Regions from separate parts of the Homo sapiens genome. Here all the other regions are linked to region 4. Evidence: fine-mapped expression QTL. A gene starts in region 4. Each other region holds a variant in brackets. All regions are shown on one strand. Distances are from middle to middle.

Evidence for each region. PIP is the estimated chance that this variant, and not a neighbour inherited with it, causes the effect.
Region 1: its variant is the best candidate, but not a certain one, in a credible set for the expression of HAGH in whole blood (INTERVAL, PIP 0.74).
Region 2: its variant is the best candidate, but not a certain one, in a credible set for the expression of HAGH in whole blood (TOPMed, PIP 0.65).
Region 3: its variant is the best candidate, but not a certain one, in a credible set for the expression of HAGH in whole blood (TOPMed, PIP 0.58).

The regions. Positions count from the first base shown.
Region 1 is chr16:1,742,407-1,750,082 of GRCh38, forward strand. It overlaps MAPK8IP3 (mitogen-activated protein kinase 8 interacting protein 3), which reads left to right. Exons shown (of 32, transcript NM_001318852.2): 5 at 926-1,070; 6 at 4,623-4,869; 7 at 5,838-5,940; 8 at 6,196-6,314. Among named protein-coding and RNA genes, the nearest start is that of MIR3177, 11 kb to the left of the region's middle. The variant G/A (reference allele first, on the strand shown) is at 3,887.
Region 2 is chr16:1,788,597-1,793,596 of GRCh38, forward strand. It overlaps NUBP2 (NUBP iron-sulfur cluster assembly factor 2, cytosolic), which reads left to right. Exons shown (of 7, transcript NM_012225.4): 7 at 1-590. The coding sequence ends at 118. IGFALS (insulin like growth factor binding protein acid labile subunit) reads right to left here. Exons shown (of 2, transcript NM_004970.3): 2 at 1,817-3,805. The coding sequence ends at 2,004. Among named protein-coding and RNA genes, the nearest start is that of IGFALS, 2.6 kb to the right of the region's middle. The variant G/A (reference allele first, on the strand shown) is at 2,180.
Region 3 is chr16:1,866,094-1,873,769 of GRCh38, forward strand. MEIOB (meiosis specific with OB-fold) reads right to left here and starts at 6,071. Exons shown (of 14, transcript NM_001163560.3): 1 at 5,900-6,071; 2 at 2,014-2,091. The coding sequence starts at 2,082. The variant C/T (reference allele first, on the strand shown) is at 3,649.
Region 4 is chr16:1,822,996-1,830,203 of GRCh38, forward strand. HAGH (hydroxyacylglutathione hydrolase) reads right to left here and starts at 3,830. Exons shown (of 9, transcript NM_005326.6): 1 at 3,717-3,830; 2 at 1-42. The coding sequence starts at 3,792. FAHD1 (fumarylacetoacetate hydrolase domain containing 1) reads left to right here and starts at 4,211. Exons shown (of 1, transcript NM_031208.4): 1 at 4,211-5,915. The coding sequence starts at 4,244. The coding sequence ends at 4,909. RefSeq lists enhancers at 907-976, 4,241-4,430 and a silencer at 3,181-4,150.

The DNA of each region.
Region 1 (7,676 bases), 80 kb before region 4:
TCCCAGGGTCCGTCTTCAGGTTCGGGGCTCCCTGACAGCAGAGAGGACACGTGGGGAGGGAGAAGACGCCCCTCAGGCTCAGGCTCCGGCTGCAGCAGATGAGACGGGGTCAGTCCTTACTCTGGATGTGTCGTGTTCAGATATTTTGCAGTGAGGCAGCCTCATGAACAGGAGTAATGAGGATGGGCAGGAGGGGCCAAGGAACAAGGCACAGGGGCAGGAAGGCTGGATTCCCTCTGCTGGCGCCAGGGGAACAGGCAGGGCTGGCAGTAACACCACAGGGAGGCAGGGCTGGGCACACATAAGACAATGGTCCTAAAAGGCATTGCTCATGGTGGCCGTGCAGCGCTGACCGTGATGCCAAGTCCCGTGGCTGGCTCTGCTGTGGGGTGTCTAAAGCACACCCGGCTTGTGTCTGTTTAAAATTGAACTTAGGCCGGGCGCGGTGGCTCACGCCTGTAATCCCAGCACTGTGGGAGGCCGAGGCAGGCGGATCATCAGGTCAGGAGATCGAGACCATCCTGGCTAACACGGTGAAACCCCGTCTCTACTAAAAATACAAAAAAAAATTAGCCAGGCGTGGGAGGCTGAGGCAGGAGAATGGCGTGAACCTGGGAGGTGGAACTTGCAGTGAGCCAAGTTCGTGCCACTGCACTCCAGCCTGGGTGACAGAGCGAGACTCCGCCTCAAAAAAAATAAAATAAAATAAAATAAAATAAAATTGAACTTAATAAAAATGAGAAACTGCAGCATCATGGGAGGGGAAGCGCCACGTAGGATCATAACTGAGTAGCTGCTCGAGCTGGGCTGCTGGCTGGCATGGAGCGGCCCCATCACTCGAGGTCTGCTTGCCCTGGGAGGGCTTGGGAAATCTTCACGGCCACCCTCTAACCATCGCTTCCTCTCCTCTCGCCCCCCATTTCAGCAGGAAGGAGCGCCCCACCTCCCTGAACGTGTTCCCCCTGGCTGACGGCACGGTACGTGCACAGATCGGGGGCAAGCTCGTGCCTGCGGGGGACCACTGGCACCTGAGTGACCTCGGCCAGCTGCAGTCCAGCTCCAGCTACCAGGTTTTGTAGCCGTGCCGTGGAGTGAGAGGCTCCTCCCTGTTGCTGGTGTTCCCCGTTCACTGGGGCGGGAGCCTCGTCTGCAGGCAGCCCTTCACGGCTCTCTGGGCCACTCGCCCTCTCCCTTCGTGTGTGGCAGGATGGAGAAACCCAGCCAGGGTGTCAGGGGCTCAGGCTGCCCAGCAGGCCCTGTGTGGCTGTGGCTGTTCCACGCGGCCTCGTGTCGGCACCTGCTAGTCCAGGCTAGACCTCCCTGCCCTTGGATAGACCGCTCTGTAGCCAGGGGTGTACAGTGCCTGTCAGGGTTGAGCTTAGTGATCCTCTCTCAAACCACACCCCCACATAAAGCCTCATGCTCACCCGGGCTCCAGCCAGACACATCCTGCCCCTGAGAGCCACGCCTCTACTCTCGGAGGAACGTCAGTGTCTAGAGTGTGGGGTTTGCCCTCCGTTGGCAGAAAGGTGAGGAGAAAGCTCCTCTTCTCTGGGCCCCTCCCTGCCTGTCCCTGGTAACGCCTCCTGGGTCCTGAGTTTGAGAAAGCAGAGCCTCGCCCCAGCAGGTACTCACAGCCAGAGTGCGGGGGCCCCAGCAGGTTCTCACAGCCAGCCGGTGAGTGCACCTCAGAGCACAGGGGCCCAGAGCCAGGCCACTCCTTCAGGGCCCCAGGTCGCTTGCTGCCAGTTTTGGCCTGTGAGCTCACTGGCCTCAGTGCCAGGTAAGGACAGCCACCTTCCTGGGAAGAAGAGGTGACCCCGGGTCTGGTGGATTTCCCACAGGGGCCGTCAGAGGATGTCCACAGAGGCAGAGCCCTTGGGGCCTGTGGGCTGGGTTGGGCTGGTGGATGTGGGGCCTGGGACTTCTCCAGAAGCTTACTTCCTGCTGCATGCTTTGCCGACTGTCCTTCCACCTCTAAGTGTCCATCGTGCCTGTGGGGGCTGCTGCAGGCTCCTGCTCCGTCAGCCCACCTGCTGCTGCGCTGCTCTGGGAGCGAGCTCCCTCATGGCATCTGGAACGCTCTCCTGTCCTCCCTGTGCTCAGGGCTGGAGAGAGGGTGGCGGGGCTGCGGGCTCCCCGGGCCTTCTGGGCCCAGCCCTGCCACCTGGGCCCACCTCCTCTCACTGTCTCTGGCTCACGCTTCCCGGGCCTGGAGCTGGGACCTGCCCATAGGCATCTGAAGACACGTCAGCCTCAGCCGGGGGGAGCCCTTGCTTGACGCTCTCTGGCCTCCGGGCTGCCTCTCGCGCCCGCTCTGGGCCCGCTCTTCTTCTCATGATGTCTTTCCTTTCACCTCCTGCGTTGTCTGACATCGTCGCTCTCTTCATAAATTGTAGCGTTTTATGTTTTCGTTCATAGGAGTGTTTTATTTGATTTTTCTTTATTTTAAATTATTACATTTAAGTTCTTTTTATTTTATGCTCTAGGTTTTGAAGTTTTTCTAATTTCTTAATTTTTTTGTTGTTTTTTGTTTTGTTTTGTTTTTGTTTTTATGTACTGTATTTTCAGTGTTTTAACCAAACAGTTGTGGCTACTCATGGTGAGGAATGACCGCTAAGAGTTTGGGTTCTTTCAGTGCATTTGGAGGTCACTGCTACACGTTGATGTTTAGGAGGTTGAGAGGTTTGCCTTTAGGTAAGTTGTGGCCAGGGGGAGTGTCCCATGGGTAAGTGGTGGCCCTGTAGGGTGACGGAGAGCTAGGGGAGGCGCAATCAGACTGCAGAATTCCCCGCAGCCACCATGAGGGTCAGGAGCAGGCCGGGGACCCAGCGTGGAGGAAGGTGGCCCAGAAGCGTTTGTCTGATGTGCACAGCTACACCCTGCCTGGCCACATGGGGTTCCCTGTTTTCTCTCTGCCGGGTGGTGGCAGAGTCGGTGAGACACCAGGTGCCTGTGACACATTGGGTAGACAGGTTCTTTGAGAACGTCAGCACAGACTTCTTGCATGAGCGGTACTCGCTTCCTCCAGCGTGGGGAGTGACATGAAGAGCAAGGGTTTTCCTTTCAAACTGGGCATAGCTGCAGAGCCACAGGCCGTCTCAGACATTTCTACAAAGCCACTCCGGGAGGCGGGCTGCGCCCGTGTGAGGGCTCTCCCTCGGCACTGCTCATCTTTTGGGGCTGGACATGCATGGCCTGGGCCGCTGGGACGCGGTGGGTGTGGAGCAGCATCCCTGGCTTCCACCCACGAAAGCCAGGAGCACCCCCTTCATTTGTGACCACAAAAATGTCTCTGGACTTTGCAAGCATCCCCTCGGGGCAGTCAGCCCAACTGAGAATAGCTACTATAGAGGAAGGTGTGTCATTTTGAGATTCCTTCTAGAGAAACTTAGGAGCCTGGTAGATGAAGCAGAAATGTGTCCTCTGAGTGAGTGGCCGTGTCCGGTACTGAGAGGCCCCGTGCCCTGAGTCTGGCGGTGACCAGAGAGGCTGGGCAGAGGCAGAGGTCAGCACTGGCCATGACTTCTGGAAGTCCCGTCTGCCCTGGTCACTTAAAGGCCAGTATAAGTCAGCTGTGGAGAGGGCTGGATACCCCCTCGACAGCTCCTCCCTGGGTGAGATCCTTAGCATTAGAGTCCCCCACGGTGCGCCCTCTGAGAGACCACGGGAACCCACCCAGCGGCTGCCTGGGACAGGCACAGGAGCCACCTGGGTGCCTCTGAGGCCTTGCACTTTCCCACACCTCAAGGAGGGCCGGGGGCCACGGGCAAGCTCTGCCATAGCGGGTGATCAGGTCAGCTAAGACGAGAACGTTTGGGGCTCTTTTTCTCCAGCTGGTTCAGTATCTTTGTTAGGAAAGACCATTGGAAAGAATGTTTGTTTC[G/A]CATTCCGCATTAGTCACATAGAATGCGCTCCTCCCTAGCGAGCTTCCTGAGGTAGACGGCTGGTTGCGGTTTCTCGTAATCCGGGCTGCCCCCACCCTCCAGAATGTCTTGGTGGCGTCCCTTTCTGTGAGCAGGGATTGTGGTTTCTTTGCGCTTGCTCATGTTCAGGGGTGAGCTCTGGTCCAGTCAAGCCACAGGGTCAGCACCTTCTGGTCACTCCCTGGCCCTGACCTGAGCCCGGGGAGGAACGTGGGGCAGGCGCGGGTGGGCCCAGCCTCGAGCTCTTCAGCACAGTGATGGTGACGGGGCAGCGGTGGCGGCACAGCCAGCCCTTCTTGGGTCCCCAGTCAGAGCCCTCTGCCCTACCTGGGCTGGACTTGTTTCTGAACAGCCACAAGCTACAGGGGGCTGCCGCTGTGTCCCTGGCGAGGCACTGGCCCATTACAAGCAATCGTCTGGGGAGGGCACCAGTGGAAAGCCCCGTTCCAAGCCATTTCAGGAGGGTGGCCCTGCTTCCGAGGAGCCGGAGTCAGTGGCCGGATAAGCAGAGCCACTCGGGAGTGGTGAGGCCCGGAAGGGTTAGCCCGGTGGGCGGCAGAGGAGCTCTGGCCCGCAGGGTGTCGGGCGAGGCAAAGTGCAAAGCATTGGTGCGCGGGGCCTCAGGCAGCCACGGCGGAGCCGCAGGCCAGGGACCTGCAGTGACTCGCTCTCCCTCCTCCCTGTGTTTGGCCTTAGTGTCCACAGGATGAAATGTCCGAGTCAGGCCAGTCCTCGGCGGCCGCCACACCCAGCACCACAGGCACCAAGTCCAACACGCCCACATCCTCCGTGCCCTCGGCCGCCGTCACACCCCTCAACGAGAGCCTGCAGCCCCTGGGGGACTATGGCGTGGGCTCCAAGAACAGCAAGCGTGCCCGGGAGAAGCGCGACAGCCGCAACATGGAAGTACAGGTCACCCAGGAGATGCGCAACGTCAGTATAGGTGGGTGCCCACCTCCGGGACTCTGGGCTCCCTCGGGCAGGAGGCAGGGCTTGGTTTGGGTAGATGTGAAACTAATGCACCAGGCGGGCAGTGCAGGCAGCAGAGACGTGTTCCTCACAGCCCGGAGGCTGGGGTCCAAGATCAAGGCGCTGGCAGGGTAGGTTCCTCCTGCGGCCACTCCTTGGCTTGTAGACACCACCTTCTCCCTGTGTCCTCAACAGGCATCCCCTGGGTGTGTCTGTGTCCTCATCTCCAGCTCCTACAAGGACATAGCCCCATTGGATTAGAGCCACCACGTGACCTCATTTTACCATAATCACCTCTTGAAAGGCCCAGCCTCCAAATACAGTCATGCTAGGGGGTATCTATTAACATATGGATTTGGGGAGACACAACTAAGGCAGTAGCCTGCGTCACCCCACGGCACACAGCCCCACTAACCAGTAACCTGCATCGCCCCACGGCACACAGCCCCACTAACCAGTAACCTGCATCGCCCCACGGCACACAGCCCCACTAACCAGTAACCTGCATCGCCCCACGGCACACAGTCCCACTAACCAGTAGCCTACGTCACCCCATGGCACACAGCCCCACTAACCAGTAACCTGCGTTGCCCCACGGCACACAGGCCAGTGAGGGAAAGAGAAGAGGGGAATGAGGGCCGAGAGGAGGTCCAGCCACTGGCTTGCTTGGACGTGGGATCTCTGGGGACTGGGCTTACTGCTGACACTCCCATGCAGAGAGGCTGCTGCAACCCACCCCGCTCCAGGCCCCGCCTCAGACGTCTACTGTGCTGGGGTTCGACCTCTGCCCAGTCAGCCTGGGAAGAGCTGTTTTCTGATCATCCCCACCTAGCAGGTGGTCCAGCTCCAGCCCACCAGACTCAGGTTCCGAGGGCAGCCGTGAGCAGGGCAGAGGCTGCCAGACCCTCTCCTGACCCCAGGTGCCCCTGTGCTCTCCCCTAGGCATGGGCAGCAGTGACGAGTGGTCTGATGTTCAAGACATTATTGACTCCACGCCAGAGCTGGACATGTGTCCAGAGACCCGCCTGGACCGCACAGGAAGCAGGTACTGGCTCAGCCCAGGCCCTGGGGTCCTGGGGGCTCAGTATTTATCCAAGTCGGTGTCTTTGGTGAAGTCTTCCTCTGCCACCACTGGGAGAACCATCAAGGCTGTGGCCTACCGCCTCCATCCACGACCGGCCTGCAGGGCAGTGTGGGCATTGAATGGCCACGGTGGGAGGTGTTGGAAGAGTCTGCAGACGCAGCCACTCCGGGCTGCCCACTGACTCTGCTCTCTCTCCCGACCTGTGGATCCCAACAGCCCAACCCAGGGCATCGTGAACAAAGCTTTCGGCATCAACACCGACTCCCTGTACCATGAGCTGTCGACGGCAGGGTCTGAGGTCATCGGGGATGTGGACGAAGGGGCCGACCTCCTAGGTAAGCGCAAGCCTTCCCCCGCACCGCTGTGCCTGCACAATGCTGGGGCTTTCTGCTGTTGGTTTTGTTTGTAATGAAAGGAAAGTCCTCTGTCAGCTGTGAGCTAGGAACCTTTTTTTTTCCAGCTTTGTTGAGTTGCGTTTCACATGGAATTGTCCCTCCATCTCCACAGGGGATTGGTTTCTGGACTGCCCCAAGGATGCCAAAATCTGAGGCTTCTCAAGTCCCTGCTCTGAAGTGGTGTAGTGTTTGCACCCTCCCGTGTACTCTAAATCACCTCTAGGTTATGTTGTAGATGCTGTGTAAGTAGTTGCTGTTATGCTGTGTCGTTTAGGGAATAATGACAGGAAAAAAGTGTACACGTCAGTACAGACACGGCCACCACAGGCCTGTACATTTTCTGTGAGGCTGGTTGAATCCACACATGCAGAACTCGTGGGTATTGAGGGTCGACTGTATCATAAAATTCACCCGCTTCGAGTGCACGGTGCGGTGGGTTACAGCGTACTCACAGGTGGGGCAGCCACCCCCATGATCTCAGTTTAGAATGTTCCGCCATCCCTAAAAGAAATCCATGCCTGTTAGCCTCGCCCCATCTTCTGCACACACCCTCAGGGCTGCCAACTCTCCAGGAGGTTGGGAGGGTGCCCGCTTCTCTGCTCTGTGCCCATTAGCCTCGCCGCACACCCTAGGACCATTGACTTTGGAGGAGGTTGGGAGGGTGCCCACTTGCCCACTCCTCCGCAGACAGCCCTGGCTTCACCTCAGCGCCACAGGTCTACACCGGACCCCTGTGCCTAGGTCTGTGGCGGCTGCAAACATCAGGACCTGCTTCCTGTCAGCACGTGGAGTCTCCTGTGCTCATGGCATCTGCTGGCAGCTGAGCACTGGCCATGTGGCTCTGAGCCCCAGGCTTTCAGGCATGACAGGCGGGCAGTAGGACAGCGCAGTCTGTCCCCTTGCACGCGTCAGGGTCCGAGCCTTTCGCCATGGCCTTGCTTCCCCCAGCCCGCAGGGTGAGAAGCTCCTGGATCCCAGGCTGCCTCCTGGTGTACTCCTGAGCTGATTGTCTTATCTGGGGCAGGGGGACCTCCAGGGAGCAGAGTAATGTGGGGTGCTGAGCACCAGCAGGGCCTCACCCTGACAGGGAGGCCTGTCTCATCCTGGCTTGAGTCAGAAAGTGCCCCAGTAGAGGCCATGTATGAGTAACATAATATTCACCATGTTAACCGAGTTGAAGTGTTCAGTTCAGTAGTGTTGGACACACTGTACTTGGTGGTGAAAGATGGAATGCTCCCCGAGATCAGGACGGCGGTGAGGGCGCACTTTGGTGCTGTGAATTTTCTGTGGAACTTTTCTCAT
Region 2 (5,000 bases), 36 kb before region 4:
GAGGACCCTGGAGGAGGGCCACGACTTCATCCAGGAGTTCCCTGGGAGCCCCGCCTTCGCTGCACTCACCTCCATAGCCCAGAAGATTCTGGACGCGACGCCCGCGTGCCTCCCCTGACTAAGGCCACCTTGCAGCCGCTTTCCAGGGCCACCAAGGGCTCTGCTCCAGCCTCTCAGAGAAACAGAGGCCTGGGCTCGGTTCCCGGGCCCTGCAGGGGCAGGCCCAGGCAGCGTCAGCCGGAGAGCTTCTCCCCGACCAGCCCAGCCCCAGGATGTGTCGCACCAGCAGCTCTGCCTGGTTGGCCTGCAGTGCCGTGGTCTGCGTGCTCTGCAGCTGTGAGACGGGGGCGGCCTGGGCTCTCTTCCCATCCATGTTGCCTACCTGTGCCCCTGGCAGCCGCGTGTCCACACAGTTAGCGGAGCGCGGGACTTCTGCAGTCCTCAGGTGACCCCGGGCCTCCAGCACCCTGGGTCGCTGTCATCTGTGTTTAGCTCGGGGAGTGCCCCCTAAGGGGGCGAACTGACCTCAGGCATGTTTTGTAACTGTAGAGGCGCCTGCCATTAAACGTGTCCGCTGCTGTGGCGACAGATCTGATGTTTCTAGAGTCTTCTGTCCTTCGGGGTCAGACAGCACCTGCTTCTGTAAGTTTCTGGGCTGGACTGGGCCAGGCCGGCAGGTTCGTTCGTTCCGTTGTCAACAAGCCCCTGGGCCCAGGTGCTGATGTGTTTGCATCTTATTTGGTGGGAATTCGGGGAGATTTTGTGATAAACCTGACAGCTGGCCCCTTCGCCGTGGAAGAATGGCCTCCCTGGGACACTAAAGGGGCCCCTCCCGGGACAGAGACCAGAAGTCAGGTTGAGAAGGGAGCTCCAATCCCAGGGGTCCCCTGCACCTCTTCCCAGTGAGACCCGAAAGGAAAGCCCTTCCAGAAAGCAGAACGCGCCATTTTTCCCAAAGGAAGAGCTCAGCCTTCAGCAGGGGAGGACCCTGGAGGTGGGGGCCCGGAACCAACCCGGGCGGCCTCTGGGTGGGTGAGAGGGCACCAGGAGCACCTGGGCTGACGATGCCGGTGCCTGGGGGGGGCAGAGACAAACGCCCACGGCATCTGCAGGGGGTGCGGCTTCCCACGCAAGGCGGACGGCCCGCCCCGCGCTCCCTCCTCACCCCACCTCAGCCGCGCCCTGGCTGCCTGGACCACACCCCTCGGGGACACTGCCTGGTCCTCAGGGCGATCCCTCAAAGAGGAGGGGTGAGACGCAGAGCCCCTGGGGATTCGAGTTGGTGCCATCATTCCTGGAGGATGTTCTGGGGAGCCCGAGGGGCAGCCACGGGGACCAGGAAGACACATGGGTGTGGGGCAGTTGGCCAGGGCGGTGGCGGGGCAGGATCCAGGCGGGGGCCCTGGGCGTGGCCAAGCCGGGGAGGAGAGAGGTGAGGAGACCAAGGCGTACCCAGGCAACACCATCCTCCCCTCCCCTGAGCCAGGTGGGTTTTTTTGAGACAGGGTGTTGCTCTGCCGCCCAGGCTGGAGTGCAGTGGTGCAGTCTTGGCTCACGGCAGCCTCTACCTCCCAGGCTCCAGTAGTCCTCCTGCCTCGGCCTCCCTAGGACCACAGGCATGGGCCACCATGCTATGCTAATTTTTTTTATTTTTTGTAGAGACGGGGTCTCTCTTGTGTTGCCCAGGACGGTCTCTCAAACTCCTGGGCTCAAGCGATCCGCCCGCCTCGGCCTCCCAAAGCTCTGAGACCACAGCTGCGCGCCGAGCCCCCAGCCCCCTCCCTGGTTTCACGTTCGCAGTCACCCACTGTGCCTGTTAGATTCGATTGCCTTTGCCTTTAATTGATGACAGCTGGGGGGGCCGCCATGCCTTCCACCCCATCAGGCCCTTGCGTCTTCCAGCAAGTGCACTGGGCAGGCCCCTGAGGACACTGAGGACCTGTCCCCAGCACAAGGTGAGCCAGGTGGGGGCCTGAGTCCGGGGCTTGAGTCCGGGGACCTGGTCAGCAGGGAGCAAAGTGGGCCTCGCTGAGGTCCCGCAGGTCGAGCCCCACGACCTCGGGCGGGCTGGCACAGGTGATGTTGTTGTAGGTGTACGCGGGCGGCTGGCAATCGTCCCCCTCACAGATGGCCTGGACGAAGCGGGGCACAGCACTGGGGTTCTGCAGGGCGAAGTCCC[G/A]CAGCGCCTTGAGAGGGCAGCCACAGTCCCAGGGGTTACCCTCCAGCCACAGGCGCTCCAGGCCCGGGGGCTGCGGCGTGAAGGTCCGCAGTGAGTTGTTCCTGAGGCTGAGGTAGCGCAGCCGCCCCAGTGGTGCCAAGAGGCTGTTGGGCAATGCCTCCAGGCGGTTGTGCGAGACGTCCAGCCAGAAGGCCCGCTGCAGGGGGCCCAGGGCGTCCGCCGGCAGCTCTGCCAGGCGGTTGCGGGAGAGCAGCAGGTACTCCAGCTTGCCCAGGCCCTGGAAGAGGCGGTGGGGCAGGTGCGTGAGCTGGTTGGAGGTCAGGTCGAGCTCCAGCAGCTCCGCCAGCCCCCACAGGCTCTGCTCCTCAATGCCCACGAGGCCGTTGTCCTTGAGGAAGAGTCGGCGGAGCCCCGAGAGGCCGGTGAAGGTGTGCGGGCGGATGCGTCCCAGGCAGCTGCCCTCCAGGTGCAGGCTGTGCAGCTTGCCCAGGCCCCGGAACACCTGCTCCGGAAGGTTCCGGAGACAGTTCCCAGAGAGGTTCATGACCGCCACGTTGGTGAGGCCGAGGAAAGCGCCCGCCTTGACCTCCTGGAGCTGGTTGTGGTCTAGCGTGAGCACCTCAAGCTGCCCCAGGCCCTCAAAGCTGCGCTCAGCCAGCTGCCGGATGCGGTTGTGGCCCAGCTGCAGCTCCTCCAGGAAGTGCAGGTCCTTGAAGGTGCGGGGCCGCAGGCTGGCGATGGCGTTGTGGGACAGCCGCAGCACACGCAGGCCCAGCAGACCGGGGAACGTGTCCTCCAGGAGGCCAGCCACGCGGTTGTGGGACAGGTCCAGCCATCGCAGCGCCTTCAGGCCCAGGAAGGCGCCCGGGGCCACGGCAGCGATGAGGTTGCGGTCCAGGTAGAGTTTCTGGAGCCGGGGCAGCTGCACGAACACGTTTGCCTTGATGGCCCGCAGCGCGTTCCTGCTCAGGTCCAGCTCCCGGAGCTCGGCCAGGCCGCTGAAGAGCGCGGGCTGCAGGTAGGCCAGCCTGTTGCCCGCCAGCACCAGCTCGCGCAGGCTGCCCAGGCCGCGGAACGCCGCATCGGGGAGCACCGCCAGGCTATTCCAGCCGAGGTTGAGGTCCCAGAGGCTGCCGAGGCCCTCGAAGAGCCCGTCCTCCAGCCTGCTCAGACGGTTGTTGCTGAGGCCGAGCGAGGCCAGCGCGGGCGTGTGTGCAAACGTGCCGAGTGCCAGGCTGCGCAGCTGGTTCCGCTCCAGGTGCAGGTGGCACAGGTTCTCTAGGCCCAGCAGCGCCTGTGGCTCCAGGCTGCCCAGCTGGCCGCCCTGCAGGTTGAGGAAGCCCAGGCTGGAGAGGTTCTGGAAGGCTGCCGGGGGGACGGACGAGAGGTTGTTGCCGTCCAGCCACAGGGCTTGGGTGCCGCCCGGGACTCCATCAGGCAGGCGCGTGAGGTTCCTGGAGCTGCAGAAGACGCTGAGCTCATCCGCGTCGTCATCGTAGCTGCAGACACAGGCGGCCGGGCACGCTGGGCCCTCGGCTTCCCCCGGCGTTCCGGGGTCTGCTCCCTCCAGGCTGCGGGGGCCCAGTGCCACCCAGGACAGCAGCAGCAGCGCCAGGGCCAGGCCTCCTGCGGGGGGAGAGGCTTGGGGAGGCGGCCCGAGGAGGGCTCTGCCCGAGTGAGCCTGATACCAGCACAGCCGGAAGCGGCGCTCAGGTGTGAACTGAGGCTCGAGGTCACCCGCTGAGATGCGAAGAAGCCGGTGAGCCCCACAGGTCCTCCGGCTCAAAAGCTGACACTGCGCTTCCCACCCCATGGGACAGAGGAGTGGCCGCCCCGCCCCGCTGCACAGACGCTCAGGGCTTGGCTCTCCAGCTGTGCGCAGGCCACGTGGGCTCGGCCAGGCTGGGTCTCGGGCTGTCTGGCCATGTGGCAGCCGCACCCCCAAGGCAGGCGCTTGAGCCAGGCCAGTCTGCCACGTTGGCCTAGAGGAAGGGGAGGGAACTGAGCCATTGGCCAAGGTCCGGCCATTTTCAGAATATTCTGCAGCAGGTCTTGGTGGGCACTCGCTCACTGCCCTCAGAGGCTGGACAGGGAGCTGGGCACCTCCTGCCCCAGTTAGGCCCCCCAGCGGGGTCTCACCTGCCTGCATCCAGGCCTTGGTCGGGTGCTGCGGGAGGGGACCGGGGCACCGCCGTCGGGGGACAGGTAGGAACCCTGGACCGTCGGCCACCAAAGCTCACATTGCCTTTCAGGACAAGGGGCCACAGGCCCCACAGACCCAGCCAGCAGGCTCCCAAGCAGCGATGACCCAAAACCTCTACTGTATGGCCCCCCCATCCTCAGAGAGTGTGGAATTGCTGGGATGGTGGCAGGGGCGAGGTGGGGCCCCCCCGACTGCCCTTCTGTCACGATGGGTTGGGAGTGGCCTGAGCCAGCTCTGGAGCTCAGCTCAGGCTTGGGGGTGGCCGAAGCTGCAAGGGGTCACCCCACAGAGACAATGGGGTGTGAGCCAACGTCTCCTGCCTGGGCCGGGCCCACAACGCGGGCCGTGCGGGGCACTTCCCGCCGCTGTGCTGGGAGCTGAAGGGTCCGGCCTGCACCTGGCCCTCCTCCCCTGTGCCGCCGCCAGCGCCCTTAGGGTGGAGGACGGGACAGAGACCCCTGGTGCCAGGCACAGCTGTGTCCCCCTGCCAACCCCAGCAGCCGCATTTCCGACTGTGGGCTCCCCAGAGTCCCCCGCAGACCCCCAGAGCTGAGCCCCCCAGAGCTTCCTTGGGGGCTACCCCGGCCTCTCCCCAGCGGGCTCAGGGTCACAGACTGG
Region 3 (7,676 bases), 43 kb after region 4:
TCAATCACCAGATGGAGCATAATAACTGCCCTATGCTATCAATCCTTACTGAATTCATCCAAAGCACATGTATAATGCAATTTAATTTGCCACAGTCTTCAAAGCTTTCCTTTATATAGGGTTTTCTAACAATCCACATAAAATCACTTAGCTTCTTAATCCAAACATGCTGGACAGTAATATAAATTAGACTGTAACAAAACTTATATTTTGCTGCTAATAAATCTAAATTCTAAAGTCCTAGATCTTAAAACTTAGAGATATTAACATCTCCTCAAAATGTTTAATGTTCTCTTTAGTGACTACTGAAGAAAAATTTTAAATGTGTTTTAAGAAATAAAAATGGGCCGGGTGTGTTGGCTCACACGTGTAATCCCAGCACTCTGGGAGGCTGAGGCGGGTGGGTCACCTGAGGTCATGAGTTTGAGACCAGTCTGACCAACATGGTGAAACTCCATCTCTACTAAAAATACAAAAAATTAGCCAGGTGTGGTGGTGGGTGCCTGTAATCCCAGCTACTCGCGAGGCTGAGGCAGGAGAATCGCTTGAACCCAGAGGCACAGGTTGCAGTGAGCTTAGATCCCACTATTGCACTTCAGCCTGGGCAACAGAGCAGGACTCCATCGCAAAAAATAAAAATAAAAAAAAAATAATAAAAAATAAAAATGAATACCTTTTCTGAAAGGAAAAAAACTAAACTTATTTTGCTAATTGCAGCAACTGATTTTAACCTTACAATAATCTTGACATTTAAATTACAATCAGGCTTTTAAGACTCCTACATTCTAGCTGAGCTATTAGCTAGCTTTATTGCTTATTTAGACACATTGATATTATTTCTTCAATTCCTTATACTTGCAGATCTCACTGAATTTTGTTGGAAAATCCAATTAATGGAAATGTTGAGTAAAACTTTCTATCTGAAGAGACCATTATTAGCAAATAGTTTACCTTTCAAGAAAAACTATAACAACAATTGTTATTTTTTAATATTTTAAAATTTTAAATTATTAAAGTTATATGTAAATGTATCCCATTGTAAGAAATCTAGTTTGCAAAAGCAAAATATAAATAGCAGAGTGCTCAGGGGCAGGGAAGGTAAGGGTGTGTGGTAGCTGCTTTACAATAAGTTCTTTAACTTATAAGATGATTCCACTTAGTTTTCTTTTAAGTAAGTAACAGTCGAGATGTGTTCAAAATCATTGAATTCCCCTATAACTCCTACTCAAAGAGTCAATTTTCACATCATCATTGTAGAAAACACACATGTTATAAACCTATATCATAAAAGCAGCATAATGTCAAGTACTTAGACCATAAATTGGATAATTTGGTCAGAAAATTGCTACTGCTGAACAAAATGGTTTAATTTTTTTTTTTTTTTTTTTTTTTTTTTTTTTCAGAAGAGTTTTGCTCTTGTTGCCCAGGCTGGAGTGCAATGGTGCGATCTCGGCTCACTGAGACCGCCTTCTGGCTTCAAGCGATTCTCCTGCCTCAGCCTCCTGAGTACCTGGGATTACAGGCATGAGCCACCACACCCAGCTAATTTTGTATTTTTAGTAGAGATGGGGTTTCTCCATGTTGATCAGGCTGGTCTCAAACTCCCAACCTCAGGTGATCCAGCTGCCTCAGCCTCCCAAAGTGCTGGGATTACAGACATGAGCCACTGTGCCTGGCCTGGTTTAATTTTACAATGCTAAATTTGAGCATTTATTAAATTTTTCACTTTATAAAATATTAAGTAAAATAATACATCTATTGATCATTTTGAACAATTACTAGTCAAATCTACAATCATATCTTCTACTCTACACACAAAGATTAATTTTCATCTAGGTGGCATAAATACAAAGAAATTTAGGTATACTTAATATCTAACAATTATACCAATGCAATGAGTATCTATATACTTGCCAATTATAAAAGCATGTGTTGAATGAATCAATAACATTGATGTAATGTTATCACATAAAATGTCATCAGTAAGCAAATCACCACATTATTGAAACCTACCAGATTAGCCATATTTGTCTGCAGATCTGAAAGGGTAGTGAAAATCCTCGCTGCAAAGGAGTTTGCCATTTTTTTAATCTGCATTTTAGAAAATATAATTTAGATATATAAATTGAATAAATGAAATAAATCATTTAAAAAATTCCAAGAGTTTAAAATCTTATTTAGGGCCGGACATGGTGGCTCATACCTGTAATCCCAGCACTTTGGGAGGCTGAAGTGGATGGATCACCTGAGGTCAGGAGTTCAAGACCAGCCTGGCCATCATGGCGAAACCTCACGTGGTAGCGGGCACCAGTAATCCCAGCTACTCAGGAGGCTGAGGCAGGAAGAAGTGCTTGAACCTGGGAGGCAGAGGTTGCACTGAGCCGAGATCGCACTACTGCACTCCAGCCTGGGCAACAGAGCGAGACTCTGTCTCAAAAATAAATAAAACAAAATAAAATAAAATAAAATAAAATATTATTGGCCAGGTGCGGTGGCTCATGCCTATTATCCCAGCACTTTTGGAGGCCGAGGAGGGCGGATCACAGGGTCAGGAGATCGAGACCATCCCGGCTAACATGCTGAAACCCCGTCTCTACTAAAAATACAAAAAATTAGCTGGGCTTGGTGGCAGGCACCTGTAGGCCCAGCTACTCGGGAGGCTGAGGCAGGAGAATGGCGTGAACCCGGGAGGCGGAGCTTGCAGTGAGCTGAGATGGCACCACTGCACTCCAGCCTGGATGACAGAGCGACACTCCATCTCAAAGAATAAATAAATAAAATAAAATAAAATATTATTTAGGAAAGCACTGGATAGTTTACTGCTTTGGAAAATTTTTATTATAATGGTAAAATGTAAATTAATATCGATTAAACCTATAAAAAACATGTTCAGAATGTCCTTTTATAATTTTGAATGATATAGCTATTATAGGTTTCAATTTTTAACTTTCATTTCTAAAACCATGTAAAATTTAGTAGTTTTTGAGCACCATGTAAATTTAGTTTTATTTTATTTTTTAATTTTGTTTTAACTTTTTTTCTTTTTTTGAGACATCAGTCTCACTCTGTGCCCCAGGGTGGAGTGCAGTGGCACAATCTCAGTTCACCACAACATCCGCCTCCCAGGCTCAAGCGATTCTTCTGCCTCAGCCTCCCAAATAGCTGGGATTACAGGCGCCTGCCACCATGCCCAGCCAATTTTTGTATTTTTAGTAGAGACGAGGTTTCACCATGTTGGCCAGGCTGGTCTTGAACTCCTGATCTCAAGTGATCCGGCCGCCCCCAAAGTGCTGGATTACAGGCGTGAGCCACCAAGCCCAGCCAAATTTAGAGTTTTACATGCAAGATGATTCAATAGGACATTTTTTTTTTGAGATGGAGTTTCACTCTGTTGCCTAGGCTGGAGTGCAGTGGTGCAATCTCAGCTCACTGCAAGCTCCACCTCCTGGGTTCACGCCATTCTCCCACCTCAGCCTCCCGAGTAGCTGGGATTACAGGCACCTGCCACCACGCCTGGCTAATTTTGTTTTTGCATTTTTAGTAGAGACGGGGTTTCACCGTGTTAGCCAGGATGGTCTCCATCTCCTGACCTCGTGATCCGCCCACCTCGGCCTCCCAAAGTGCTGGGATTACAGGCATGAGCCACCA[C/T]GCCCGGCCTCAGTGGGACATTTAAGGATTTAAATATATATTAGCATCAAGCTTACCTCAAAAAATACAGCAAAAATCTACGTAAACACCTCATATTGAGCATTTGATTATACTGTGTGAAGGGAAAGGTAGTGATTTTTTTTTTTTTGAGACGGAGTCTCGCTCTGTCGCCCAGGATGGAGTGCAGTGGCACGATCTCAGCTCACTGCAACCTCTACCTCCCAGGTTCAAGCGATTCTCCTGCCTCAGCCTCCCGAGTAGCTGGGACTACAGGCATGTGTCACCTCACCCAGCTAATTTTTTTGTATTTTTAGTAGAGATGGGGTTTCACTGTGTTAGCCAGGATGGTCTCGATCTCCTGACCTGATGATCCACCCGCATCAGCCTCCCAAAGTGCTGGGATTACAGGCGTGAGCCACTGAGCCCAGCCCGGGAAAATTATTGATTTTAAACACACCTCTACATAGTAAAACTACATGAGGGCAGAGGTGGCATCTTACGTATTTTTATGTATGTATTTCATAACTGAAAACCATAAATATCAGATGAACGAAATGGTGGTTTGTCCCTCAACATCATCACTCTAAAAGGTTCTATTGTAGAAAAATTGTAAGCTACACCAAACAGATTGACTTCACTTTATAATCCAGGGCCTCTTTAACTCTGGGAATGCCCACACCCACCCGCTCCAGTTCAAGGACGTGTCTCATGACACCTGAATTTCAGGCAGCCTGTGGAGTTAGTCAAATATGATTTTGAATTGCAACACCACTAGTTTGTAGTCGTGTGTTTTAACATTACTAAACATTAATTTCCTCATCCTTAAATTGTGGATAACATCCACCTGGCAGTGAAAAGTAGAAACAGTGTATACAAGATGCCTCGATGTTCACAGGCTCACAGTCAATGATGGCCCTGCTTGTCAATATTATCCAATGTACCAGTTTTTGTATTCAAGGCCTTTCAGTGCCAGAAGAAACATTTGGGAATTAAGCTGTGTCAAGTTTTTCATTCGTTCTTTGGCCTGGTCTGATGTGGCTCACAATGCAGTGTCACTATCTAAAACACTTGCCGAACTGTGACAAATTCATTCACTCATTCAACCATTCAACTAATATTTATTTACAGCCCAAAGTGCCAGACATGTGAGTCGAGAGGATGAGTCAGACATTTGACTCAGTGGCTGAATATTCTGTACAAACACAACTACCTACACACCAAGGGATTTCTCCACATTTTTACCCCTTAGCATCTCTTGGTGGGACATGGTATCCTATTATCTCTCTGAATTCCCTTATTTGTCTGCTACCGTTAGAGGTATATGGTAATAGACGTTAGTGTCTGCCCACAAAAAATATGACTTGCTTCTCTACCTGGTCACTTTAACAGATACAAAATTAACATGAACTAAAGAGCTCAATCTGAGAATTCAGAGATGACTTCATTCAACAACTACTGTCTCTTTTACCCTACAATTTTGTTTTGTTTTGTTTTTTGAGACAGAGTCTTGCTCTGTCGCCCAGGCTGGAGCGCAGTGGCGCAATCTCGGCTCACTACAAGCTCCGCCTCCCGGGTTCACGCCATTCTCCTGCCTCAGCCTCCCGAGTAGCTGGGACTACAGGCACTCGCCGCCACGCCTGGCTAATTTTTTGTATTTTTAGTAGAGACGGGGTTTCACCGTGTTAGCCAGGATGGTCTCGATCTCCTGACCTCGTGATCCACCCGCCTCGGCCTCCCAAAGTGCTGGGATTACAGGCTTGAGCCACCGCGCCCGGCCCTTTTTTTTTTTTTTTTTTTTTTTTTGACAGAGTCTTGCTCTGTTGCCCAGACCGGAGTGCAATGGTGCGATCTTGGTTCACTGCAACCTCCACCTCCCGGGTTCTAGCGAGTCTCCTGGTTCAGCCTCCACAGTAGCTGGGATTACAGAAGCCTGCTACCACACCTGGCTAATTTTTGTATTTTTTGTAGAGATGGGGTTGCACCTGAGGTGGGCAGATCGCGAGGTCAGGAATTTGAGACCAGCTTGGCCAACATGGTGAAACCCCGTCTATACTAAAAATACAAAAAAAATTAGCCAGGTATGGTGGCGCACGCCTCTAATCCCTGCTACTCGGGAGGCTGAGGCAGGGGAATCCTTGAACCAGGGAGGAGGAGCCGGGCCCTGACCCGCGCGGGCTCCCTTCCTCGGACGCCGCCCCACAGCTGGAGGCCTGGCCCGCGTCGCCACCTGGCCGTCCACGCCGCTGCTTACCCGAGGCTCGCCCGGCCGGCTGCTCCCCGGGCCTGCACAGCTGCCGCCGCGGCCTCGCGGACCTGGCCCGCCCGACCCCCGGGTCGCCCGCGCTTCGCGGCTTCTCCACAGGACGCTCGGGCCACAGCCTCGTGCAGGTGCGACGGCCGCGCGACCGTTAGCGCGAGGCCCCGCCCCGTCCTCAGCGACTCCGCCCCCACCGCTCACTGACTCCGCCCCCACCGCTCACTGGCTCCGCCCCCACCGCTCACTGGCTCCGCCCCCAACGCGCTCAGACTCAGCCCTCGGGGGAGGGGAGGGGAGCCCGGTTCCCGTTTCCTCCTTCTTGGGAGTTAGAGGGACAAGACAGCCGCAGGCGCGGGGAGGGGTCTCCGTGCGCTCTCACAGCCGCGTGTGGCTCTGTGGTCGCTGGATTCCAAAAGACGGTGCGCCGGAAAAAAATAAACATATCTCTCTATCTATAATATTATGAAGGGCGGGCGCGGTGGCTCACGCGTGTAATCCCAGCACTTTGGGAGGCAGAGACGGGCGGATCACCTGAGCTCAGGAGTTCAAGACCAGCCTGGCCAACATGGTGAAACCCCGTCTTTACTAAAAATACGAAAGAAATTAGCCAGGCGTGGTGGTGAGTGCCTGGTTGTCTTGTGGCGCCGCCCGCCCACCCGAGTAGTCCCAGCTACTCAGGAGGCTGAGGTATGAAAATCGCTTGAACCCGGGAGAGGTCGCTTGAACCCAGGAGAGGAAGGTTGCAGTGAGCCGAGACTGTACTACTGCACTCCAGCCTGGGCAACAGAGTGAGACTCTGTCTCCAAAAAAAAAAAAAAAGAAAAAATGAGCCAGGCACGACGATGCATGCCTGTAGTCCCAGCTACTGGGGAAGCTGAGGGGGGAGAATCGCTTGAGCCCAGGAGTTCAAGGCTGTGGTGAGCTATGATGGCGCTACTGCACTCCAGCCTGGGCAAGAGTAAGACCCTGTCTCTACAAAATTAATTAATTAATTAATTAATTAATATATCTACATCTAATGATAGATTTGGCATGTAGTACATCAAGAAAATACCCATAGATGGGCTGGGCGCGGTGGCTCACGCCTGTAATCCCAGCACTTTGGGAGGCCGAGGCGGGCGGATCACGAGGTCAGGAGATGGAGACCATCCTGACTAACAAGATGAAACCCCATCTCTACTAAAAATACAAAAAATTAGCCGGGCGTGGTGGCGGGTGCCTGTAGTCGCAGCTACTCCGGAGGCTGAGGCAGGAGAATGGCGTGAACCCGGGAGGCGGAGCTGGCAGTGAGCTGAGACCGCGCCACTGCACTCCAGCCTGGGTGACAGAGCGAGACTCCGTCTCAAAAGAAAAGAAAAAAGAAAAAGAAAGAAAAAACCCTAGATGTGTATATCTATGTATGAAAAATATATATATAATTAGATGTGCTAAGGATTGGACTTAGGTGAATCTGACAAAAATTTTCTCAGCTCTTCATGTTTTTAATTACTTCCATTTAGAAATCTTTTTAGTTTAATGACTTATACTAATTTTTGTTAACAGAGTACCAACCCAGGGCAAGTAAGATCCAAAAACTAAGTCCATTAAATTTGTCACCTACTACTGTCCACATGTAGCATTATTTAAGTTTCTCTTTAAAAAGAGAAGAACAACTTTGGTGCATATAACACACACATATTATAAAAGAAAAATACCACTGTAGAACCAAGTTTTATGTTATTATTAAAATACAGTTTTTCTTTTCCTCATTTTTTTTTAATTTCCCAAATAA
Region 4 (7,208 bases):
TCCGCAAATCTGTGTGGCAGAAAACTCCCAGCAGGGCTGGACCTGCAGACACAGAGCACAACTCAGCGGGCAGCCGCGCCAGGCCCTCCACGACAGGACGCGCAAGCTGCAGTGCTTCCCAGCCTTTCTAGGTTCCTTTGAAAAGGAATATTCTGGCCAGGTATGGTGGTTCTTGCCGGGAATCCCAGCGCTTTAAGAGACTGAGATGGGAGGACTGCTTGAGGGCAGGAGTTTGAGACCAGCCTGGGCAACATAGCAAGACCTTGTCTTTTTTTTTTTCTTTTTTTTTTGAGACGGAGTCTCGCTCTGTCGCCCAGGCTGGAGTGCAGTGGCGCGATCTCGGCTCACTGCAAGCTCCGCCTCCCAGGTTCACGCCGTTCTCCTGTCTCAGCCTCCTGAGTAGCTGGGACTACAGACGCCCGCCACCATACCCGGCTAATTTTTTGTATTTTTTAGTAGAGACGGGTTTCATGGTGTTAGCCAGGATGGTCTCGATCTCCTGACCTTGTGATCCGCCCACCTCGGCCTCCCAAAGTGCTGGGATGACAGGTGTGAGCCACCGCGACCAGCCAAGACCTTGTCTTTGCAAATTTAAAAATTAGCCAGGCATGGTGGTGCATGCCTGTGGTCCCAGCTACTCCGGAGGCTGAGGCAGGAGGATCACTTGAGCCCAGGAGTTTGAGGCTGCAGTGAGCTATGACTGTGCCACTGCACTCCAGCCTGGGTGACAAGACAATAACCTGTTCCTTAAAAAAAAAAAAAAAAAAAAAAAAAAAAAGGAATATCTTCATATATCCCTGAGGAGAACACAGGAACTAACTCATGCTCACATTCATGGAAATCAATTGTTTCAGACTTACGATCTCTATTTTCTTTTTTGAGAACTCTAAAAGGACAGGAAGGCCAGCTTGTGATTGTGAGGCGAACCACTGCCAGTGCTGGATTATTCACACCCCGGACTCAGGGACAGAATGTGAAGAAGGGAACACAGACTAGGGGTGCCCCCGCCTGGCCATCTGCCCTCCAGCAAGCTGTGCTGCCACCACTGACTAAGCGAGCCTGCGTTCCATGCAGTTACAGCCCTTCTCAGCCTCTAGCCAGAAAGAACCAATACTTGACGGCAGGCTGAGGCAGGAGAATTGCTTGAATCCGGGAGGTGAAAGTTTCAGTGAGCCAAGATCGCCCTACTGCACTCCAGCCTGGGCAACAGAGTGAGACAGTCTCAAAAAAAAAAAAAAACAAACAAACAATACTTGCTCTTGAACAGCACGAATCTGAGATATGCACAAAAATCAGCAGTTCCTTTGAGACGGAAAGTTGGCCACAACTGCCCCCAGATTCAAGTGTGGAGGACACAAAACCACCATCCAACTGACCCAAAGGACTCTGCCACAGGGGCCCAGAAGGCCCAAGAGCTGGGAGGAGTGGGTGACCAAGGGACAAAAGTGTCTGCCACCCAGTCGACCAATGCAAAAATATTTTCAGCAATGAAACTCCTACTAAATCTAAAAATACCTGGGGGCCCCGACAATACCTTCAGTTCCGCTCTACACGGGGAAGAAACCACAGAAGGTGGCAGAGGACAGTGCAGTCCTGGGGTAGGTGCCACGGCAGGGGCTTCTCCCAAAAGGGATCCAGAAATGGGCAGCAGCCACCAACTGACAGACACACGCGTCTCCAGGGCCCACCGAAATGCGGAATCCGACCTTATTTCCACAGCCGGGGAAACTGCCCAAACTATAGTTTCAATCACTGCACAAAGATATCCTATTACCCGCCTGACAACCAGCTGGGCATTTTCCAGATCATTCTCCTCAGGAACAATAATACCAAGATTTCTATATGAGCAGCTTCCTGTGTTATTCCCCTTCCCCTTAGCCTCAGCACCACCCCAGCCCAAGGAGCACAACAAGCAGAGTGTGGGTGCTGGGGGCTGCAGGTGGGGTGCAGAAGGGTTGTGACAGGATTCCGAGTGCCGGGCGTCCTCCTGGAAAGGAGCTCCATTACAAACAAGGAGCAGAACATTACAAACAAAAATACTGCCCACGTGCGGTGGCTCACGCCTGTCATCCCAGCACTTTGGGAGGCCGAGGCGGGCGGATCGCGGGGTCAGGAGTTCGAGACCAGCCTGACCAATATGGTGAAACCCTGTCTCTACTAAAAAATACAAAAATTAGCTGGGCGTGGTGGCGAGCGCCTGTAGTCCCAGCTACTCAGGAGGCTGAGGCAGGAGACTCGCTTGAGCCCGGGAGGCAGAGGTTGCAGTGAGCCGAGATTGGCCACTGCACTGCCCAGGCGAAGAAAATGTCATTTACAACTGGTGCTCAGCCTCCCCTGGAGACCATCACAGCCTCCTGAAGAAGCTGACAACCCAGGGAGGTGCCTTTATTTCTGAGGAAAGACGCAGCTGGTGCCAACACCAGCAGAAACCGTATTCCCTTTCCATATCACTCAGCCCAGCACTGCCTGGCAAATGTTCCCGGCTTGCTGTTTTGTAACTGTAATACTTTGTACAAACAGGTCAAGGACCTGCAGCCTGGGGCCTGGACCAAGTCCAGAAACATGTTCGGTTTGGCCCCAAAAACAAAAAAAAATTGAGATATGGTCTCACTCTGTCCCCTAGGCTACAGTGCAGTGGTGCGATCAAGGGTCACTGCAGCCTCGACCTCCTGGACTCAAGCGATCCTCCCACCTCAGCCTCCAAAGTGACTGAGACTACAGTTGTGTGCCACCACGCCCGGCTGATTTTGTTTAGTTTTTGTAGCGATGAGGTCTCAACATGTTGCCAGGCTGGTCTGGAACTCCTGGACTCAAGCGATCCTCCCGCCTCGGCCTCCCAAAGTGCTGGGATGACAGGCGTGCGTCACTGCACTTCTTTTTTAAATCAGGAAGTTTCACAGCATCTTGCTTCCCTTGAACTGGGCGGCACCAAATACGGGGGCTGGGGCCTCCCTTAGAATGGGGTACGCACGCCCTGCCGATGCACACAGTCCCGCTGGAACTCTCTGCCTGGACCCTTATGAATGTCCCTAAAACTGTAATTCTGAGGACCTCAAAATCCATGTCCTTTCCTTAGCAATGGCGACATTCTACCCCCTGCAGAGCCTTGACAGCTTTCGGCGAGATCTGGAAACCGCCAGGGACGCCTCCCTGTCTGCGCCTCCGCCCGCCCAGTGCCCTGCGCTGCGCACCCGCCCGGGGCGCTGGCCTGGCCCGGCCGCGCGACCACCTCGGGCGAATGACACGCCGGGTCCCCAGACGGGGGCTCCGGCGCCGGGCGGGCAGCTCCACCACCGCAGGCGGCGCCGCGAGACCGCGGTCCTTGCAGCGGGGCAGCAGGTGCGGGGTGGGCCAGGCGTCCCGGGGCCCTGCCCGCTGCGCCTCAGAGCCGCGCCCCAGGCTCTCCTCGGCGCCGGCCCGGGCAGGACGCGATGCCCTGGAGGCGTCAGGGGCGCGGCCGGCCCAGCCCGAGCGTGGAGGCCGCGGCGGACGCAGGCCTGGCCCTGCTTACCTAGCGCTTTCCGCACCCGCGGCCCCGCGCCCGCTCCGCGCCAGCCTCAGCGCCTGCGCCGCCTCCGCTCGAGCCCGGCAGCGCGGCCTTAGGCACCTGCGCAACAGACACCGCGTCAGCGGTCGCCAAACGACGGCCCGGCGCCGCCCGCTGCCCGCCCCGCCAGGCCCGCGTCCCCCGGCCCGCACCGCCCCGCCGCACCCACCGAGGCCTCGGCGGGCGCAGGCGGCTCCCAGCGCGGCGAGGCTGCGGCGGCCGAGCAGCCCTCGGCCCACCACCATGACCCGGGCCGGGCTGGACTGCCGAGCTGCCCAGGACTGCAAAACACCGGCGTCGGCGCGTCGCAGCCAATCAGCGCCCGCCTCGCGCTGCCCTCAGCCAATCAGCGTCCACCTCGCACCGTCCGCCAACCAATCAACGCGCTCGCGCTCAACTTGTTTTGTCCGCGAGCCCCGACTGCCACGGGCCGGGAGACGGGCCTGGGAGCGGCGGCGGCGGCCCGAGAGCTGCGCCGGGAGAGCTGTGCCGCGAGCCTCCGCCTCTTTTTTGGCACCGCACAGTGGATCCCTGGAGGCCGAGCGCCACGCCGCCCGGGTACCCGGCAGATCGCGAGGTGGAACGGGCCGTCGCTGCGGGGGACAGCGTTCCGAGGCAGTTGGTCCTCTCCGGGATGCCGTAGGCATCAGCTGACCGGCCCAGCCCACGTGACTACAGGGGCACTTGATGGGAATCATGGCAGCATCCAGGCCATTGTCCCGCTTCTGGGAGTGGGGAAAGAACATCGTCTGCGTGGGGAGGAACTACGCGGACCACGTCAGGGAGATGCGCAGCGCGGTGTTGAGCGAGCCCGTGCTGTTCCTGAAGCCGTCCACGGCCTACGCGCCCGAGGGCTCGCCCATCCTCATGCCCGCGTACACTCGCAACCTGCACCACGAGCTGGAGCTGGGCGTGGTGATGGGCAAGCGCTGCCGCGCAGTCCCCGAGGCTGCGGCCATGGACTACGTGGGCGGCTATGCCCTGTGCCTGGATATGACCGCCCGGGACGTGCAGGACGAGTGCAAGAAGAAGGGGCTGCCCTGGACTCTGGCGAAGAGCTTCACGGCGTCCTGCCCGGTCAGCGCGTTCGTGCCCAAGGAGAAGATCCCTGACCCTCACAAGCTGAAGCTCTGGCTCAAGGTCAACGGCGAACTCAGACAGGAGGGTGAGACATCCTCCATGATTTTTTCCATCCCCTACATCATCAGCTATGTTTCTAAGATCATAACCTTGGAAGAAGGAGATATTATCTTGACTGGGACGCCAAAGGGAGTTGGACCGGTTAAAGAAAACGATGAGATCGAGGCTGGCATACACGGGCTGGTCAGTATGACATTTAAAGTGGAAAAGCCAGAATATTGAGTTATTTCTTAACAAGTTTCGAGAGAGAAGGGAGCAAGACAAGAGCAAGCAACGGCTATTAAATGTCACAATCCTTTAATTAGAAACCATTTATTGGCCGGACGCGGTGGCTCACGCCTGTAATCGCAGCACTTTGGGAGGCCGAGGCGGGCGGCTCACGACGTCAGGAGATCCAGACCATCTTGGCTAACAGGGTGAAACCCCGTCTCTACTAAAAATACAAAAAATTAGCCGGGCGTGGTGGCGGGCGCCTGTAGTCCCAGCTACTCTGGAGGCTGAGGCAGGAGAATCAATTGAACCCGGGAGGCGGAGCTTACAGTGAGCTGAGATTGCGCCACTGTACTCCTGGGCAACAGCGAGACTCCGTCTCAAAAAAAAAAAAAAAAAAAGAAACCATTTATTTTAAAAATGATTAGATTGCTATGCCTCAACTCATAGAAGATGAACCCTTCAAGAAAACGTGAAGTAGAACGGGTGGGCCAGAAATGAAAACAGGCAAGTAAAGTATTTCTTCGGAAAACATTTTATCAAACCAAATGTTAAAAAGACTTTCCTTTTGTAAAACTGGATTAGAGAAGACTTTTCAGTGGGTTATCTCTAGGATGATCAGTAGTTCAGCACTTAAAAACTGCAGAGAAAACTGAAAGTTATGTTCCAGATAACTTTCCGTTGTTTACCAAATTTTCTTAGATTTGGTCATCATCAGGAAGCATTTGTAAAAATAAAAATCTCCACAAATTACTGGCCCATCTCGGACTTGCTGAATCAATTTGATAGGATTAATCTCCAGTGAAGCTGTGTTTACAGGGCATTCCAAGTGATTCTTATCAGGAAATGTGAAAAACACTCCTGTACATAATCGGTTAATTTAAAATTTTACTTAATAAGTGAACAAGTAATGAAGATTTCACCTGTTTACTTAGGGTATCTACCCAGACCCATCGATTCTGAGTTCGGGAGATGATTTTGAAATTACTGTTTTCCAAATAAAGGTGCTCCCTTCTAAGTGGCTTACAAGGGTAATTTTTTTCCCCCCAGTAATGACGAGGAGGGATATTTCCTCCTTGTGGGGCTTCAGACCTTAGTCTTTGACCTTTGGCCTTCTGAGCACTGTGCTGTGTTAACACAGTTAATCAGCAACTGTACTTCCCAACCGGAGATAAGGAGGCTTTGTGGAAGTTGAATAGCCTGGGACTGCTGCTTTTGCTCTTGCCTGCACCCTCCTCTGAAAAAACATCCAGGCAAGATGCACAGCATAGCTGTCAATGCCTGGAGGAGTCCTTTGGGCTTCGGCAGGGGTTCCTGTTCGCGTTCACATCATCTGCTGGCCCCTGAAGAAAGCCTAGGACATCTGATTGAGTAGTAACGGTCCCCATGTATTGAACACAGTACTGTTAGGCACCATGCCAAGCAGTTTATTCTGTATTTCCACGTGTTATGTAACCAGCAACCAAGCCATAAGCTTAGTATGATCACTACCATCCCCATTACTCAGATGAAGACAGATCTAGAGGCTGCGAAGGCTGGCTAAAGTCACTCAGCTTAGTGGCAGAGCCGAGATGTAACCCAGCTCCCCCAAGACCAGAACGTGAAGTTTTGACCACAATGCAGGCTGCATCTTGTAAGTAGATACATAAGAAGAATCAGACACTTAGGTATGCTGCAACCCCATGCTTAAATTATAATATAGTATGAGGAAGTGCCATAATTGGATTTCTTTATTAAGTATCATGCTATCTTAACTACTTTTAGTATTATTTTTTCATTGCTTGGCAATGCATGTAATTACAGAAGAGTCAGAAAATAGAGATTAGCAATTAGAACAAAACACCAAAAATTTCATCTACCCAGAGACAGCCAAAGTTAAGCATTTATTGCAAGTTCTTCCAAGTCTGTGGATATAATTGTAATTTTTTAAATAGAGTTTGCTCATACCATACAATTTTCTTTTTTTTCTTTCTTTCTTTTTTCTTTTTGAGATGGCGTTTAACTCTTTTTGCCCAGGCTGGAGTGCAGTGGCACAATCTCGGCTCACTGCAACCTCTGCCTCCCAGGTTCAAGTGATTCTCCTGCCTCAGCCTCCCAAGTAGCTCAGATTACAGGCATACGCCACCACACCCGGCTAATTTTGTATTTTTAGTAGAGACAGGGTTTCACCATGTTGGTCAAGCTGGTCTCGAACTCCTGACCTCAAGTGATCCACCCGCCTGGGCGTCCCAAAGTGCTGGGATTACAGGCATGAGCCACCGTGCCCAGCTATACCATACAATTATTTAACTTGCTTATTTCACTGTATATT